2 separate regions of the Homo sapiens genome follow, and region 1 is linked to region 2. The links come from fine-mapping of genetic effects on gene expression. A gene starts in region 2. The other region holds a variant in brackets. All regions are shown on one strand. Distances are from middle to middle.

Evidence for each region.
Region 1: its variant is fine-mapped to the expression of TRIM58 in subcutaneous fat (GTEx, PIP above 0.99).

What each region holds. Positions count from the first base shown.
Region 1 is chr1:247,636,113-247,644,682 of GRCh38, reverse strand. It overlaps LOC102724446 (a long non-coding RNA gene), which reads left to right and starts at 3,829. Exons shown (of 3, transcript NR_188589.1): 1 at 3,829-3,972. RefSeq lists a silencer at 4,820-5,018. The variant G/A (reference allele first, on the strand shown) is at 4,688.
Region 2 is chr1:247,853,996-247,862,565 of GRCh38, reverse strand. TRIM58 (tripartite motif containing 58) reads right to left here and starts at 5,379. Exons shown (of 6, transcript NM_015431.4): 1 at 4,900-5,379; 2 at 1,854-1,949. The coding sequence starts at 5,319. RefSeq lists a cis regulatory region at 6,902-7,466.

The sequences.
Region 1 (8,570 bases), 220 kb after region 2:
AATAGTATCACCATCTACCTAGGCACTTCAGCTGGAAAGCATGGGGAAAATGTCTGTCTGTCTCTCTCTCAGTCACATGTGCCATTAACCTCTAGGCCCCAGCATGTCCATCCTCCAATCTCCCTCAAATCTAACTTGCTCTTCTCCATTTCCAATCATACTAACTCTCAACATCTCCTGGCTTTATAACAATCTCCCATCTGGCCTCCTGGCTTTCTCTACATCATCTTCATTCTAGCTTCACTTCTGAATCACACATCTGAGCATGCTGCTACAGTTCTTTTTTTTTTTTTTTTTTTTGAGACGGAGTCTTGCTCTATCGCCAGGCTGGAGTGCAGTGGCGCAATCTCGGCTCACTGCAACCTCCATTTCCTGGGTTCAAGCAATTCTCCTGCCTCAGCCTCCCAAGTAGCTGGGATTACAGGTGTCTGCTACCACGCCCAGCTAATTTTTGTATTTTTAGTAGAGACAGGGTTTCACCATGTTGGCCAGGATTGTCTTGATCTCCTGACCTCATGATCCACCTGCCTTGGCCTCCCAAAGTGCTGGGATTACAGGCATAAGCCACCGCTCCTGGCCAGTTCTCATTTTCATGTACATATTCCCACTAAATTTTAAAGCAAGCCTCTTAGAACTAGTTGATGCCTTGCACCGGTGCTTCACAAACATGTATAAGAAGATTCATATGAGGACTGTTGCTCACAACAAAAATTTACAAACGACCCAAATTATGTGACATAATCAAGTGGAATAATAGGCAGCAAGGAAAAACAAATTAAACTGTACACACAGTTGGATATTAATAACATACTACTGAGTGAAATAAGCTAGCTCCAAGTTGCTCTATACAGAATAATAAGCTTCTTATGAAGTTCATAAATGACTAAAAGTAAATAGAATATTGTTTAGGTGCTATATTTAGGCTACACATACATGTGAACATATATACACAAACAACACATATACATACATACATAAATGTATAAATACATGCACACTGACGAAACTATGAAAACTACAAAAAAGGCAACAGAACAATCAGCACAAAGAGGTAAGAGAGACAGGCATACAGGCTGCAGAGAAAATGTACAGAGGTAAATACGGACAATGTTGTTATTCTCTGGTTGGGTGATATCATCATATATGACCATGCTATTGTTTAGCTAATTATTAAAAGAAAGCCATGCATGAGCTAAGAATTATATGTCCAATTCAGTATAGCTAAGGTATAGTGAAAGGAAGGGAGGCAGGAAGAGGGTGAGAAAAGAACTGTGTAATGCAGGAAGAAGTTTCCACGTTTAAAAGAGGACTTGAGGCCGGGCATGGTGGTTCATGCCTGTAATCCCAGCACTTTGGGAGGCCGAGGCAGGTGGATGACCTGTGGTCAGGAGTTCAAGACCAGCCTGGCCAACGTGGTGAAATCCCATCTCTACTAAAAATACAAAATTAGCCAGGCGTGCTGGCAGGCGCCTGTAATCCCAGGTACTCGGGAGGCTGAGGCAGGAGAATCGCTTGAACCCTGAAGGCAGAGGTTGCAGTGAGCCGAGATCACGCCATTGCACTCCAGCCTGAGCAACAAGAGCGAAACTCCGTCTCAAAAAAAAAGAAAAAAGAAAAAACAAACAAACAAAAAAAGAGGACTTGAAAAAGACCTAGAGCAAAACCATGTTAATGGAAACCAGCTATGTGGGTCTGACAGTCAATGCTTTTGGTAAACTGTAATCTGTGGCCTATCTACAGGGAAGTGATTCTCCAAAAGAGCATTCAAGCAGCACAGATCACCCCAGCAGTGCTATCTGCTCCCTCCTCCTGAGCTTGCCAAGATTTGGGGGTTTTGCTTAGGCTTCCCCATTCCTCGATCCTAAAGCACTCCAAGCAAATAATGTTGGTACTGTTTATCCCTACATGCAATGTGCCATATGAAATCTTGAGAAAGTTGCCCATGTCAGTCTATTTTGTTTTTTAAAAAGGATGATTATAAAATAAAGTGAACATCTGAATCTCTGGCCAAGTGAACCTCAGCCTCCCTTATAAACCTCAATATGCTCATCTTCATTTACTACGAAGCAATAACTCTTCAAATTCTTAAGCAAATAATACAATATTCATTGCAATCTGGATCTCCCTACATGTCTTTCATTGATCAACTGTCAAGGACGTTAAGGAGATTCTCAAGACTCCTCAAAAGTTGGGGGCGTGTGTGTAAGGGGAGAGATTTGTGACCAATTAAAATGCAGGAAAGTTAAATAACATTTCCAACTTCCTGGTTTGAGGCACAAACACATTTGGTGTTGAAGGAAAAGGATCAGGAAGAAACAAAACTATAATTTATAGCTTAAGTATGGTCATGGGACAGGAAATAATGTGTGGCACTTACAAATTCCATGTCCAAGCCAGGAAAAGCAAAACAGAAACAAGGACCAAGAGGGTGGTAGTTAACCTAGAAAGACTGAGGACTAAGGAAGTCCCTACTGCTGACCGAGCCCATACCAAGCAAAACCAGCAAGTGACAAGCAGCTCTCAACCCCTTTGGCTTCCTGCCTACCCTGAGATATTCTTCCCAATAATTCAAATCTAAAAGGTTTTGAGCAGCATGGGAATTAAAAAAGAAAAGAAAAACCCACCTCTGTGAAAGAGTGGCTTATATACAGGTGATCGTTTTGGATGGCACACCTTAGCATTACTAAGTTAATGCATCAGAAAGGTCGCAAACCCATCCTCTGTAAATCGGGACAGAACTGTGCCCTCTACTTGTTTTCTGCCCGAGCTTCATTCTTGACTTCTGAAGTTAATTTTAATGGTTTAAGCCCTTCCTCTCTGTTTCCAAGAGTTTTGTTTAACTTTCTTTTATCCCCCACTCACACCCTGACAGATTATGGTATGAAATAACAAAAAGTCCATCGACTTTGAAATCAGATAGACCTGGGTTTAAATCAGATAGACCTGATGCTTCATCTCTGAATCTTATCTGTAAGCTTCTGCAAAATGGACTAGTAATAACTACTCCTGAAGTTCTTCTGAGTGTTAAATGAGATAATGTATGGAAACATATCATGTCTGTTGTAGTAGATATGCTACAGTGACACAGCACACCTACTCCAGGACAAATCATTCATGCCTCGGATAGTATCTGGAACAGTTAGCTACTTAACTGCAATCATCTTCTCAATACATTTACCAAAATACAGAAAAGTGCCATGCATCAGTTACTTGTGAAAATTCTATCTCCAGTCCCGATCTCTCTCCCTTGAGTTAGAGCCCTGGATTTGTGGCTACTTCGTGAATATTACTATCTACTAGTGACTTTAGAATTGGCTAGAATTCATTTTATGCCATTGCTATTAGAAATAGGAAAGCAGACCTCAACACATGAATTCATTTGGCCTTTGTTATATATACATAGACAGGATAGGAAGTAGGACTTAGGTCACCCACCTCTCTATTTCCTGTATTTCTCTAAGTGCTTCTTGATGTCTCTCCACCAGCTGGACCACATAGAAAAGCAAATTTATCACCACACTTCCTCCAAAATTAGCTCCCCCTCTGGACTTATTTCTGTTAATTGAACCTTAATTTTCCTGGTCTGATTCAGGACTTGCAATGTCCTTGGCAAGATTTTCTGCCTTCTTCTACACCCACCCACCAGTCCCTGCATCCATTTGTTACCAAACTACCATAATTTCGTCTTTCACAAAGTCTCCTGTCTATCCTTTCCTTTTAGTTTCACCTTGACAGCACACTCTAGAACCTCATTACCTCACACCAGGACAAAGGGGTCCTACCTAGACGCCCTTCCACCTGCCCATCTAATCCCAAACACTCTGTGCACACTGCCACTTTCACCATCCCATATCCACGCTTCGCAGAGACACCTGCAAAAACACTTGCAATGCAAGACTCAGCCACAACTGAGCCTCAGAGTGTGACATCTAGGGGACACCTTGACAAAGAACCACAGGAGAAACCAAAGAGGTGGGTAAAGAACCAGGAGAGAAGACTCCAGAGAAAGGTCAAGACCCGGGGGCAGGCACCAAAAAAAGAGATGAGAACGGCAAACTTTGCCCTTTCGCAGCCCAAAGTCCTCCAAGTAAATGTCAGAAGCCAGCAAATGCCTTGGGGAGCTGATACGGAGCCCTGACTCATCTCTGGAGGAGCAGAAGAGGTTAATCAGAAATCTGTGCAAGTAGAACAAGGGGTCGGAAGACTGATCTAGCTACACGGGAGGCCAAGGTGACGCGGAGGGACTCACTCACAGATGCTGAGGGCTCAGCAGGGTCCGCACGGGGTCTAAGGAACGCAGCACCGAAGCCATTCTGCGTTGCTCAAGCACTCCGCGGACACGCGCTCGGCTCTCACATCCTGGAGATGTTCGTTATCCCGGGAAGATGTTTATCAGAAGAGAATTTCAAACAGAATAAGTAACTTTTTAGTAAATGTCCTCAATTAAACTCCCGCCTTAAGGCAACTGTTGAATTTTCCCCAATGCTGGAGGATACATGTGATGACATGAAATGTTCCTATTTTCCAAAGTTTTCATCTACCAAGTCGTTCATGTACGGTTTAGCACCGTTAATATAAGTTCACTCCTCAAAGTAATAGGTTCTGTGACAGAAGATTCTTGGTCCTAAATTTCTGATTCAAAAATGGGAAAAAATTCCAAGATATAAAAGCTGTTCACCAGTATTCC[G/A]GTTAAATGTATAACATCATAGAACAATATGAGTGATCATTGAGTCACCTTTCCCAGATGTCTCACAGAAAACCTCCTCTGACTATAATGCCCATGGAAAATCATCTTAATTCCAGAAAGCGGGGGCTGACGGGACACTGTTGAGAGGGTGAGTCACGGAAAATCACGAATGGTGGCAGGCGCCCCGCCTCAGTTCCCCTCGGGAGAGGGCACCCGCCAGTGCGGACCGCCAAGGGGCGTCCAGGACAAGGGCGGTTGGGCTCCGCGGCCCCAGCGTCCGCCCAGCGCGCCCTCCCGCGCGGCCTCGTCCCAGCCTGGCCCAGGTTCCGAGTCCCCAGTCGCGGGCGTCGTGAGGCTCGAGCGAACCCCCAACAACCGCGCCTCGCCAGGGCCACCCCGCCGCTCTGCGAGGTTCCCGGCGGCCCAAGGGCGGGATCCTCAGGACGCAGGCGCGCGCCTCTGCCGCAGCCGGGGGAGGAGCGCGGCGGCAGCAGCGACCAGTAACCGTTAGTGGAGCAGCCCCGCCCCCACGGCCGCCAGGCCCGCTCCTCCCACTCCGCCTCCTGAGCTGGAAGCTGAGAGAACCCAGGGCCCGGGCTCCAACTTCCAAGCCTGTCGCAGAGCCTGGCAAGCTCCCTTCGGGGAAGACTAGACCGACGTGCCTTAACTATTAAGTTGAAAAAGCGAAGTAGTATAAAAAGGAGATAGAGTAATAAGTGCCAAAATACACTCTGATGCACTCGTCCCTTTTTCGTCTGTCTTCCAACTATTGTCATTTTTCCAGTCAGTTAATTTCTCCTCTGCTTTTCCTTCATTTTCCTGAGTTGTTCTTCGCTCTCTGCCTCTGCTTTTCCTTCATTTTCCTGAGTTGTTCTTCGCTCTCTGCCCCTCTCCCTCCTCCACTTTTCCCCTATGGCAGTGAATCAACTGTGTGACCCCAGCTGTCACAACTGCTGCTGAGAGGGTGTGGATAAGTCACAGCTCCCAGCTCACTTTCTCACCTGTACAGCTGGACTGACCACACCCTCCTCCCGGGGTTATTGTGGGGTGGAGCAAGTCACCGATCTGGGAGGTGCTCATTTATTCTTATCATAAAATGGGGATCCCCCGCTATGGGCTGGGCACTGGTATCAGGACCCAGGAGCACAGTTCCTGGGCTCAGGCATCGCATAACCTCATGGGAACAGCAACCAGAGAAGAATTTCATGAGGATGAGCTCCATGCACTATCCTCACTCCAGGCCTCTTCCTTTTCCTTCGCTTTTACTTTGCATCTTAATGCTCAAGGCTAATGCCAGAAAAAAAGGTGAAGTACGCAAAGGGTGTCTAGAGCATCTCAAACTTCTTTATCTCAACTTTACCTCCCTCTCGTGATGGGCTCTGCTCTTTTCTCCACCCCATCCCCAATTCTGTGAAGTTCAGCAAATGCTAACTGCACAGTCCTTGTGCAGGCACTCTACCAGGTGCTGAGAAATCAAATAGCATAATTTCAATATAAAAGTGAGAGTACTGAAATCAAGGGAACATATCTAAGTCATCTGTTGCTGCCAAATGCCCAGATACTGTTTTCCATCAACAGAACTTTCCTGGGCCTCCACCATGGCTTTATGCCCCAGCAGGACAGAGCTGCCCTCCTGGTTGATTTTACATTTCTAATGAAATCTTTTTTTTTTCTTTTCTGTCCCCATTGTTTATATTCCCAAGCACACTGCAGAGCTCAGTTCCCAGCCAGATCAAGCTGCCACGTGACCTTGTTGGTTCTTCTTCCCGCCTGGGCTCTGCTCCAGTTCCTCAACATCCTTCCTGCTCATGGGGAAGGTCTCACCCCAAAGTGGCCCTGGGATTCCGTCTTGCATATTTTCATATGTGTGTGTGTGTGTGTGTGTGTGTGTGTGTGTGTTTGCAAACTAAACTGATTCACTCCCACCTCTTTAGACCTCCTTTAGAAAGGAGAACGCAGACTGGGTGGCTGTGAGCAGCACTTACCATTCTCCATGGCCTTGGTAGGGCCCCTTGAGCCCTGCTTGCTTCTTCACACAGAAAGGAAACTAAAGAGCTTTCTTGGCAATCAGTAACTCTCCCAAGCATATTTGTGTTTTCACACAGGATTTTAATTTCTACCACTGTAGGAGGCACTAGGTTCATGTTCTGGAAAAGTTAGTCCCCATGCTGCCTCTGAAATTGTATCCACAAAGACAGTTGTTCATTTTAAGTGGCAATTAGGATGGTGAGGAATTCAAAACCATGCCTAACAATAAGAACAGTAATAATAATAACCCCAGCCATTAATTGAGCTTTTAGTAGGAATCAAACATTCTTATTTAATCTCAGTGCTTTATAAACACTATCTTATTGAATCTTCACTGACATCCTATGAGACATTTTTATTCCTGTTTCACAGGGGTCTGTTGGGTGCACAGGAATCATGTCTTTCAAAGAGCACCAAGTGCAGAGGCCATGGCAAGGCCCCTGGACTCAAGTGGAAAGAAGAGGAGCAAACGTGTTCCCAAGCCCATGTTGAGACATCACCATTCCAAGGACACCCAGAAATAGCTGAGGAGGAATTTAAGGAGACAAGAGAAACATGGGATTAAGATCTTGTCAAGCAAGTGAAGATTTGGAGACATGGAGCTATGCATGTGAATATGCCTGGACATTCATGAACTTATTTACACTCATGAACTCCTGAAACCTAGGAGAGGTTGAAAAATTGCAAATCTACTTGCTCCTTCTCCGCACCCAGGCTCTACTTCTAAGTTATTGCCAACTGCTCATGGCTGAAAGCCCACATCCACTTCCGTCCTTCATCAGCCACATCAGGCTGTTAGTTTTCTTGGCCCTCCAACTGCCCACCTACTCTTCCCTGCCTGGGTTGGTTTTCAGACACTTGGACTTCACTGATCTGCTGTTCTTCTGAACAATGGACTCTGCTCTCCCATCTGAATTTTTGATACTCCCATTGTGTTATCATCAAAAATATATATTTGGGCCAGATGCAGTGGCTCACACCTGTAATTGTAACAGTTTGGGAAGCTGATGCTGGAGGAACCCTTGATGCCAGGAATTTAAGACCAGGCTGGACAACAAAGGGAGACCCCATCTCTACAAAAAATGAAAAAAAAAATTACCCGGGTATGAGTGCATGCACCTTAGTCCCAGCTACTTGGGAGGCTGAAGCAGGAGGATCGCTTGAGCTCTGACATGACCCTGTCTCAAAAGTTAGGGTCAAAATGTTTATCTATTTGGTCTTTGCCCTTGATTCCTGGCAAAAAGGCACCTGAAATTCTTGGAATTTCCTGAGTGATAGGAGTTTCTTCCATTATTCATAAACAGCCCCTTTTGATCTTACCTGAGTTAATGCTAAGAGGTGACTCTAGATGGCCCTTACATAGCTTCTAGATGGGTGCTGGTGGCCAGGGCAACCGACCACATGAATAGAGGGCTGAACTCTCAGCCCTACCCCCTGATCTGCAGGGAGGGGACAAGGGCTGGAGATTGAGTCCAATCACCACCAATTGCCATCAATCATGCCTATGTAATGAAACTTCAGTAAAACTCCTGAAACAGCGAGGCTGAGCTTCCAGGATGGTGAATACATTGAGGTGCTAGTGCCCCCAGAGAAGACAGGGAACCTCCATCCCCACCCCACCCCTTACCCTGTACATCTCTTCCATTTGGCTGCTCTTAAACTGTATCCTTTAAGATAAACTGTGACTGTAAGTAAAGCGCTTTCCTGAGGAATGAGCCATTCTAGAAAATTCTCAAACCTGGGGACAGGAGTGATGGAGTCATAGTTTGAAACAAACTACCAACCCTCACATTTTTAGTGAGCTAGGCAGAAGTGTAAATAGCCTGAGGACCCCATTTCTGGCCTGCATATGAAG
Region 2 (8,570 bases):
ACAAAAATTATCAATCAATATTACAATATTAAATAATGTACATCCTACCACTATGTACATTATAGGCAAGTAATGAACATTATTTAATACTGTAAAGCTTTGTTCTTGTTCTTTTTATCTCCATTGCCACTACCCAATCGAAACTATGCTTTACTAGCTTGATCTTACTGCAGAACCCACTGCTATATCCCTATCACCTAGAATTGCATCTTATACTGTCACTACTAGTTTAAAGATATTTGTTAATAATATTGATAAGTTTGTCAGTATCAACGTTAATAAGTTTAAATATTTCTTCACACATCTGAGTAACGTTAGGTACTAATGTTATTAACATCAATATTATTTAATATTGATAACTTTTATCCTTTCCTATCACTATCTACATCATTTACCTATAATGTACATTTTTCTTTTCTTTTTTCCTTTTTTTGTCTGAGACAGAGTTTCACTCTTGTTGCCCAGGCTGGAGTGCAATGGCACGATCTCAGCTCACCACAACCTCTGCCTCCTAGGTTCAAGCAATTCTCCTGCCTCAGCCTCCCGAGTAGCTGGGATTATAGGCATGTGCCACCACGCCTGGCTAATTTTTTTTTGTATTTTTAGTAGAGACGGGGTTTCTCCGTGTTGGTCAGGCTGGTCTCGAACTCCTGACCTCAGGTGATCCACCTGCTTCGGCTTCCCAAAGTGCTGAGATTACAGGTGTGAGCCACCACGCCTGGCCTTAATGTACATGTTTCTTCTGGGATAAGTGTTATCTTTTCCTATCCGTATATATCTATATTGTAATCTAGTAATGTAGTAAATAAAGAAAAATATAGTTTAAAAAGTCTTTATGTAATATCTGTATAAAGACAGAGTATAAGACTAAATTTTCAAAGAAAACAAGAAGGAAATAATTATAAATATATAGAGTGATCAGAAAAGAAGGGTTATTTGGAAAAGGAGAAAGAATAGGAATATTCTGCAAAGTATAACCTATTATATATCATATTATATAATACATTATATGAATATATAGAACTATACACACAGTTTCTATACGTAGTTTCTCAATCTTGACACTACTGACATCTTGAACAGATCATTTTTTCCTCACAAGATATGGGAACTGTCCTGTGGACTACAGGGTGTTAAGCTGCATTCCTGCCTCTACTAGATGACAGGTGCACTGCACCCACCCCTCCTCAGTTGTGACATCCAAAAATATCATCTCCAGAAATTGCAAAATGTTATCTTGGGGGGCAGGTATCGCCTCAGGTTGAGAATCACTGTGTGTGTGTGTGTATGTGAATCACTGTGTGTGTATGAATCACTGTGTGTGTGTGTACACGTGTGCACGCACATGTGCATGAATGAAACATGGAATAAAAAGAGCTAGTGAGGTATAAAAAAATGGAATATGTGTATGTATAGATGATAGAAAAAAAAGGCTAAACGTTCAGATTATTACCCTGTATATAAGATGATCACCTTGGGCTACACTTCTTCTGTTACAAAGTTGTGAAATATTCATTATTTCATTCACCTAACAAATATTTTCAAACTGGTAGCAACAGTATAAGATGCTATTCTAGGTGACAGGGATACAGCAGTGGGTTTTACAGGAAGATCAAACTAGCAAAGCTATTTAATTATAATTTGGATTGGGTGATGGCAGTAGAGACAAAAAGAACAAAAATGAACCATATCATTTGAGGGGACGGGATGACCCAGGATGGCTCTGAGGTGCTCTTGGGCATATATGGAGATGGAACAAAAGTGCTGGAGAATGGAAGATGGTAGAAGAATTACTGACCCGAATCTGGATCCTTCAAACAGGCAAGCCTCCTAAAGCCCCAACATGGTCTTACCTTCCAAATGACAGTCTTTTTCCCCACGTTGGCCTCCTGAGTCAAGGCGTCCTCCAACTCTTTCCTCATAAGTTCCAGAGCCATCTGGAGCTTTACCTGTTTGGGAACATTTCAGCTGTTACAGATGCCCTCAATCTGTACCTAACGTCACACAGATGTGTGAGGAAATACAAAAGTCAACTTAAACAGTCCCTAGAAAGCACATAAAAATGTTCAATATCATTAAAAACTAAACATAAATGTACTTAAGTTTTAGTGTCAGGGTCTCGCTCTGTCACTCAGGTTGTGCAGTGTTGCGATCATGGCTCACTGCAGCCTCAAACTCCTGGGATCAAATGATCCTCCCACCTCAGCCTCCCAAGCAGCTAGGACTCCAGGCACACATCATTACATTCAGCTAATTTTGTTTTCTGTAGAGATGGGGTCTTACTATATTGCCCAGGCTGGTGTCAAACTGCTGGCCTCCAGAGAGTCTCCCATCTTGGCCTTCCAAAGTGCTGGGATTATAGGCATGAGCCACTGGGCCTAGCTCCTTAAATGTATTTTAATACCAGATACAATCAAATATTTATCTAAAAGTATGCTCACTGCATTGTTATATACGATAGCATAACTAAACTAAAACATTAAAGATAGGGGAGAAAAAAATTATATTAACTGGATAGAATTAAAATAAGATGTTACAGAATGTTTAATGACTAGAAATACAATGATAATGTCCAATGAATAAAAATATTTTACAAAACAACATGAATTTTGAAAAAAAATGTGCTGGTAATGAATATATTAAAACTGGGCTGATGTAAATGAGAATGATATTAGATAAAATGTCATCTATTGGTGTTTGGATGAAGAGTGATGCTATTATATCTCTATATTTCATATATTTCTCTATATAACTATATTTATACATTTCTCTATATTTATATATTTCTCTATATAACTGTATTCTGTATTTCTCTATATAACTTCAACTTCTTGAAGTTATTGGTTACTTTATGATAAAGCATGGGTTTATTATTGTAGTATTAGTAGTATTATTAGGTCAGAAGGAACTTGGTAGGTTATCATATTTTATATGAAAAAACACAGTATGTTGTAAACCTTGCAATGAGTAAAAATACAATGAGAACTAAATCTTCCTTCAATGATAGGGCGCTCACTAGAGGTAAATATGTGTATTTTAAATACTCACAAAGATACATACATAAACAGGATTTTAATTAAAAAATTATATTCCCAAAGTTACTCAATAAATCCTACATACACATCAATTGTTTTTAAAAGGAGAATATTATAATTGTTATATATAAAATAACAGTAGAATTCATGATACCATTTGACTCAGTGGGGAAAGTGGCATGTGTTTTGGTGTTTACAAAGAACGGAGCACTTTGACACTTGTAGATAAAGAAAAGCTCCCTCAGGCCAAAGAAACTGTCAGCAAAAGCAAGGAGATGTAGCACAGTTAGGAAAACAGTGATTCGGCTAAATTTGCTGGGTTTCCTGGCTGGTTAAGACAAGAGAGCTATGGAAACATAACTTAGGGCCCTAGAAAGCTTTCACTGAGAGGCTCAGGAGTTTAGATAATATTTATTTGGTATTTAACCGAAGAACTACTGAAAATATGGAGAACACCTTTAGAAATATTACACTAGAGGCTGGGCTGCCTGTAACACCAGCACTTTGGGAGGCCACGGCGGATGGATCACAAGGTCAGGAGTTCAAGACCAGCCTGGCCAACACAGTGAAACCCCGTCTCTACTAAAAATACAAAAATTAGCCGGGTGTGGTGACGCATACCTGTAATCCCAGCTACCCGGGAGGCTGAGGCAGGAGAATTGCTTGCACCAGGACCCGGGAGACGGAGGTTGCAATGAGCCGAGATTGCGCCACTGCCCTCCAGCCTGAGCTACAGAACTAGACTCCGTCTCAAAAAAAAAAAAAAAAAAAAAAAAAAGTTACTACCAATCCTCTTTCTGGACTTTTTTTAAAAAGGCAAGAACATTCCAGAAAAGTTTAGCTAGAAATTACCTAGTACTAGTACCTACATCTCGCAAATGACAACGAAAATCAAGAAGAAATACCAAGAGAGATATTGGTAGAGAAGGAAGGGGAAAATATCCTAAACCTTAATTTAAAACAAACAAAATAAATAAATAAAAATTTTAAGAAAGTATTTGCAATGCACTACAGCGCGACTGACAGTCCTTTGGTTAAATCTGTCAGTAAAGACGACTTAGACCTCCTCTGTGCTGGCAGTTGTTCTACATGCTGGGATTCAAGTGTGTTCAGAAAACATCCAAGAACTTTTGAAGGGCACCAGTAGGAAGAAATCGACACACAATTTCACAGATGCCACTCTGGGGACCAAATACTCCCATTTTGTTTTTCTTCTTTCTCTTTGAAGCTTCCCGGGCTACACCCCAAATGAAGCACCTCTTCATTGAGGATGTTCGAATCCTAAGTCCCCAAATCCCTGCTGATGGAGAGCCACCCGCTCCTACTTCAGGAGGCACGTGCACCTGAGCTTTGGAGGGGTCGGAACCCGTACCCAGCTCGACACTCTTCTTAACAACGCCCAAACCCGAGGGTTGCTTTGCTGACAACACTCATTTAATGTAAACACTGTGCAAAAGCAAAGCATTGCACAAATGAGAATTATTATGGCAAGTTTACGATATAGACGTACAATTGTTACCAAGAATGAACTGGACCACACAGCCCTCCCGACCAGAGCCCAGCTGAGGGACCAGACTATCCGCATCGGGAGAAACCAGCCCAGCGCGAGTTCGACGACAGGAGAGTGCTTGGGGGAGGGGCGGACGGTGTAAAATAATGGGTGTGTGTCGCAAAGGGGGTTACCACAGCCAAGGCAAAGAGACCCACACTGAGTGAGCCGCGTGGGCGGGGGGGACGGCGCGCGGTGGGGGGAGCGGCCGTGGGAGCCGCTCAGGAGACGGGTGGCCTCGGCGGCTCCGCTCCGGACTGTCGCCCGCTTCCCGGTCACCGCAGCGCCCGCAGCCCCCGCCGGGGGGCGCCTCACCTGGTAGCTGCCGGCGGCCTCCTGCAGCGGCGCCGTGCGGTGCGTCCTGTGCTCGGGGCCGGCGTCGCACACCCAGCACAGCGCCGCCTCGTCCTCCTCGCAGAAGCGGCTCAGGTCCTCGCCGTGCCGCGCGCATCGCCGCGCCCCGGGCCCCGCGCCCAACCCCAGCCGCCGCACGCTCTCCACCAGGCCCGCCAGCTGCCGGTTGGGGCGAAAGCCCGAGGGCCGGAAGGGGCCCCGGCACTGCGGACAGGCGTAGACGCCGCCCTGCGCGCCGTCCGACTTCTCGCAGAACTCGGAGATGCACCTGAGGCAGAAGCTGTGGCCGCAGTCCACGCTGACCGGCTCCTGCAGGAAATCCAGGCACACCGGGCACCGCGCATCCTCGCGCAGCCGCTCCCCGGGCGGCGCCCAGGCCATGACCCGCCTCCCGGAGGGCTGCGCTCCCGGCCGCCCGCACCGTCTCCCCTCGCGGTCTGCACAGGGGGAGGAGCCCACGCCCCAGGAAAGCAGGCGCCGACGGGTGGTGTCCGCTGGCTTCAGTTCAAGAGCTCAGACGAGCCACACCCGGTGAAAAGCCACCACTCAGGCGCTCCCTATGTCGGGGATAAAATTAACGTTGTGGTTCCCCGCCCCCGTCACACACACACCCAGGAAACTGGGCATTTCTAACTGGAATCCCTCCTCATATGCTATTTTCACTGGCAGTAGATCTGGAGAATTGCTAAATTCCCTCCTTCCTTCCATCTTTGTTTGTTTGTTTTTGTTTTTGTTTTTTTGAGAGGGAGTCTCGCTCTGTCGCCCAGGCTGGAGTGCGGTGGCGCGATCTCGGCTCACTGCAGCCTCCGCCTCCCGGGTTCAAGCGATTCTCCTGCCTCAGCCTCGCAAGCAGCAGGGATTACAGGCGCCCGCCACCATGCCCGGCTAATTTTTGTATTTTTAGTAGAGACGGGGTTTCACCATTTTGGTCAGCCTGGTCTTGAACTCGTGACCTCAGGTGATCTGCCCGCCTCGACCTCCCAGAGTGCTGGGATTACAGGCGCGAGCCACCGCGCCCAGCCTCCATCATCATTATATAGATTTAGTGCAGATTTCTGGGGTACCAGTGCAGTTTTGTTACATGGAGACACTGCATAAAGTCTAGGCTTTAGCGCAGGCATCGCTGTGATAGCGTAAATTGTTCTCATTAGGTGATCTCTCATCCCTCGCCCGCCTTCCACCCTCCGAGCCCCTTCCATTGTTACTGAGCTACTCCATGGTCCTCTCATGCCATAATCGTTTCTTAAAAGGCTTTCCCCCTTTATATGGCATAATCAATTTTTAAATGTTTTTTTCAAACTTCATTTTTTTCTCTTGCACTAATTACCTCTTGATAAAGAAATGAGACACCGCCTGACACGGGAAGATGCCTGCATAGGTGTGTGTAACTATAGGTTTACAGCCCAGCCAAAAATAATTCTAAATATTTAAATAAATATCTGGCCTAGTTCAATGAGGATCCTACAAGGAATACACACATGTTGTAGGATTGTTGCAAAGCCAGTCTTGGAGATGACAAAGCTATAGAGATACTCATCAGAGGAATAATTCAAGCTTAGCCTCTCAGTGGTGTACCTGTCAGATGGGGGAGGCTGAGACAGGAGCAAAATGATTTGACAGAGTATGTTACTTCATCCAGTGGAAGGCTGAATCAGGATAAAGTACATTAAAGTCTCTAATGTCGTCCAGAAAGTCGACAAGTCTGAGGCAGTGTCTGCATCTGTGCAAAATAACTTTAGTATGGTCGAGTTTGAAGTGATGGTGGGGTGTACCTGTGGCAAATCAATCTGTCCCTGAGCACACATTGTGTCTGTTTGTAGCCAGGAGTCTCAGACATTGCACCGGGTACTGAAAATACACATGTTAAGGAAAAGAGGTGGGACCCCATTTCTCCAGGAGCCTTAAGATCAACTAGAAGAGGTGGATATGAAATCATGCAAACATATAATTACAAACCAATAACTGCAAGGAAGGTCGCTCACCAGTCCTGCAGGAATATAACAGAGGACTCTGAATGAGGCTGCAGGGTCGGGGGCAGACACCTGAGGTCTCTGAGCAAACCTCTGATAGGTGAACACAAGCTGGCCAGCGGGAAGGGGGGCTCCGCAAGGCCGTGCCCCCAGAAGCCATGAAAGGTACAAGGTAAACTTCAGCAGGTGGGAGCAAGACATACCCAGATGACAGTGAGAAGCCAGGCAGGCTGGCAAGCTGGGCCAGAATATGGTGGCAGCAGATAAGGCTGCAGCAAGAGGCGGGGCCAGATGACTCAGGTCCTTGGGGATCCTCTGGGGTTTGTGGGTCTTCATTATAAGGACAAACTCTTGGGCTGGATCTCTGGCGACAGGCAGAGCAGAGGATCTTGAGGCCTAAAGGTTAAGTGCGCAATTAAAGCGAATAGATTCTTGGAGAACACACATGGATCTGTATTAGCAAAACACGAAAGATGTGGCATTAGAGAAAAAAGCTAAAGAGCAGAAGGCTTAGCAAAGAAAAACAGACTCTGGCTCCGGACTAAGGGCTGTGGCACTTGCTGAGAAGCTTGAGGCAAGCTGTGCCGCGTTTCTGCCCTGCATTTCTTCTGACGTGCAGTGAAGAGGTGTTAGTGTCATTCATATAAGGCCTTTCAGAGTATTAAACGAGCTAATAGATAGTAGACACTTAATATAGGTCCTGGCATGTTGGAAATACACACACACACACACACACACACACACACACACGTATATATATTGAGACAGGGTCTTGCTCTGCTGCCCAGGCTATAGTGTAGTGCCACAACCTGACTCACTGTAGCCTCTACCTTTCAGGCTCAAGTGATCTTCTCACCTCAGCCTCCCAAGTACCTGCGACTACAGGTGCCCGCCACCACGCCCAGCTAATTTTTGTATTTTTTGTAGAGACAGAGTTTCGCCCTGTTGCCCAGGCTGGTCTCAAACTCCTGGGTTCAAACAATCTCCCCACCTTGGCCTCCCAAAGTGCTGGGATTACAAGTGTGAGCCACCTCGCCCGGCCATGTAGCAAATATATTTAATTGAAGAAAAGGAAATGAAATAGTGAAGTGAATGGAAGGATGGTGAGTCAAAAGGTAAGCTACATTAGGAAGAGAGATTTTTTTCTATTTTGTTCACTGCTCTATCTATCCCCAGGACCTTGAAGAGTAACTGGCACAAATGGACACTCCACACATACTAACTGATTAAACAAGTTAATAAGTAAATGAACAGAATTAGGACAGTTTATCATAGGAGCTAATGAAAGAGGGAAGTTCAAAGATGATTATATTATGTCAAATGTCAAATCCATGTTTTTCTGCATTTTACATATATGATCTTGCCCTGGCTCTCCATAACTCTGGCAGATGCTGGAGCATTTTTCTATTTTGCAGGCATAACGAGACACAGTAAAACAATCCATTTACTCAAATATATGGGCCAGTTGATAACTAGGCTCACTTAAATTCAGATTTCCTAGTGCCTGTGATCCTAAGGAAAGGCCCCTGGCTTCTGACGTTGGGGGTCACTGTGGTTTTCAGTAGGGTGTGACGGAGTGGGCGAGCTCACTTCTTCCCCTGCTGGTCCTAGAGTTGCTGAGCTTAAACTGTTTTGTCTCTGACACTGGTTGACTAGGAATGA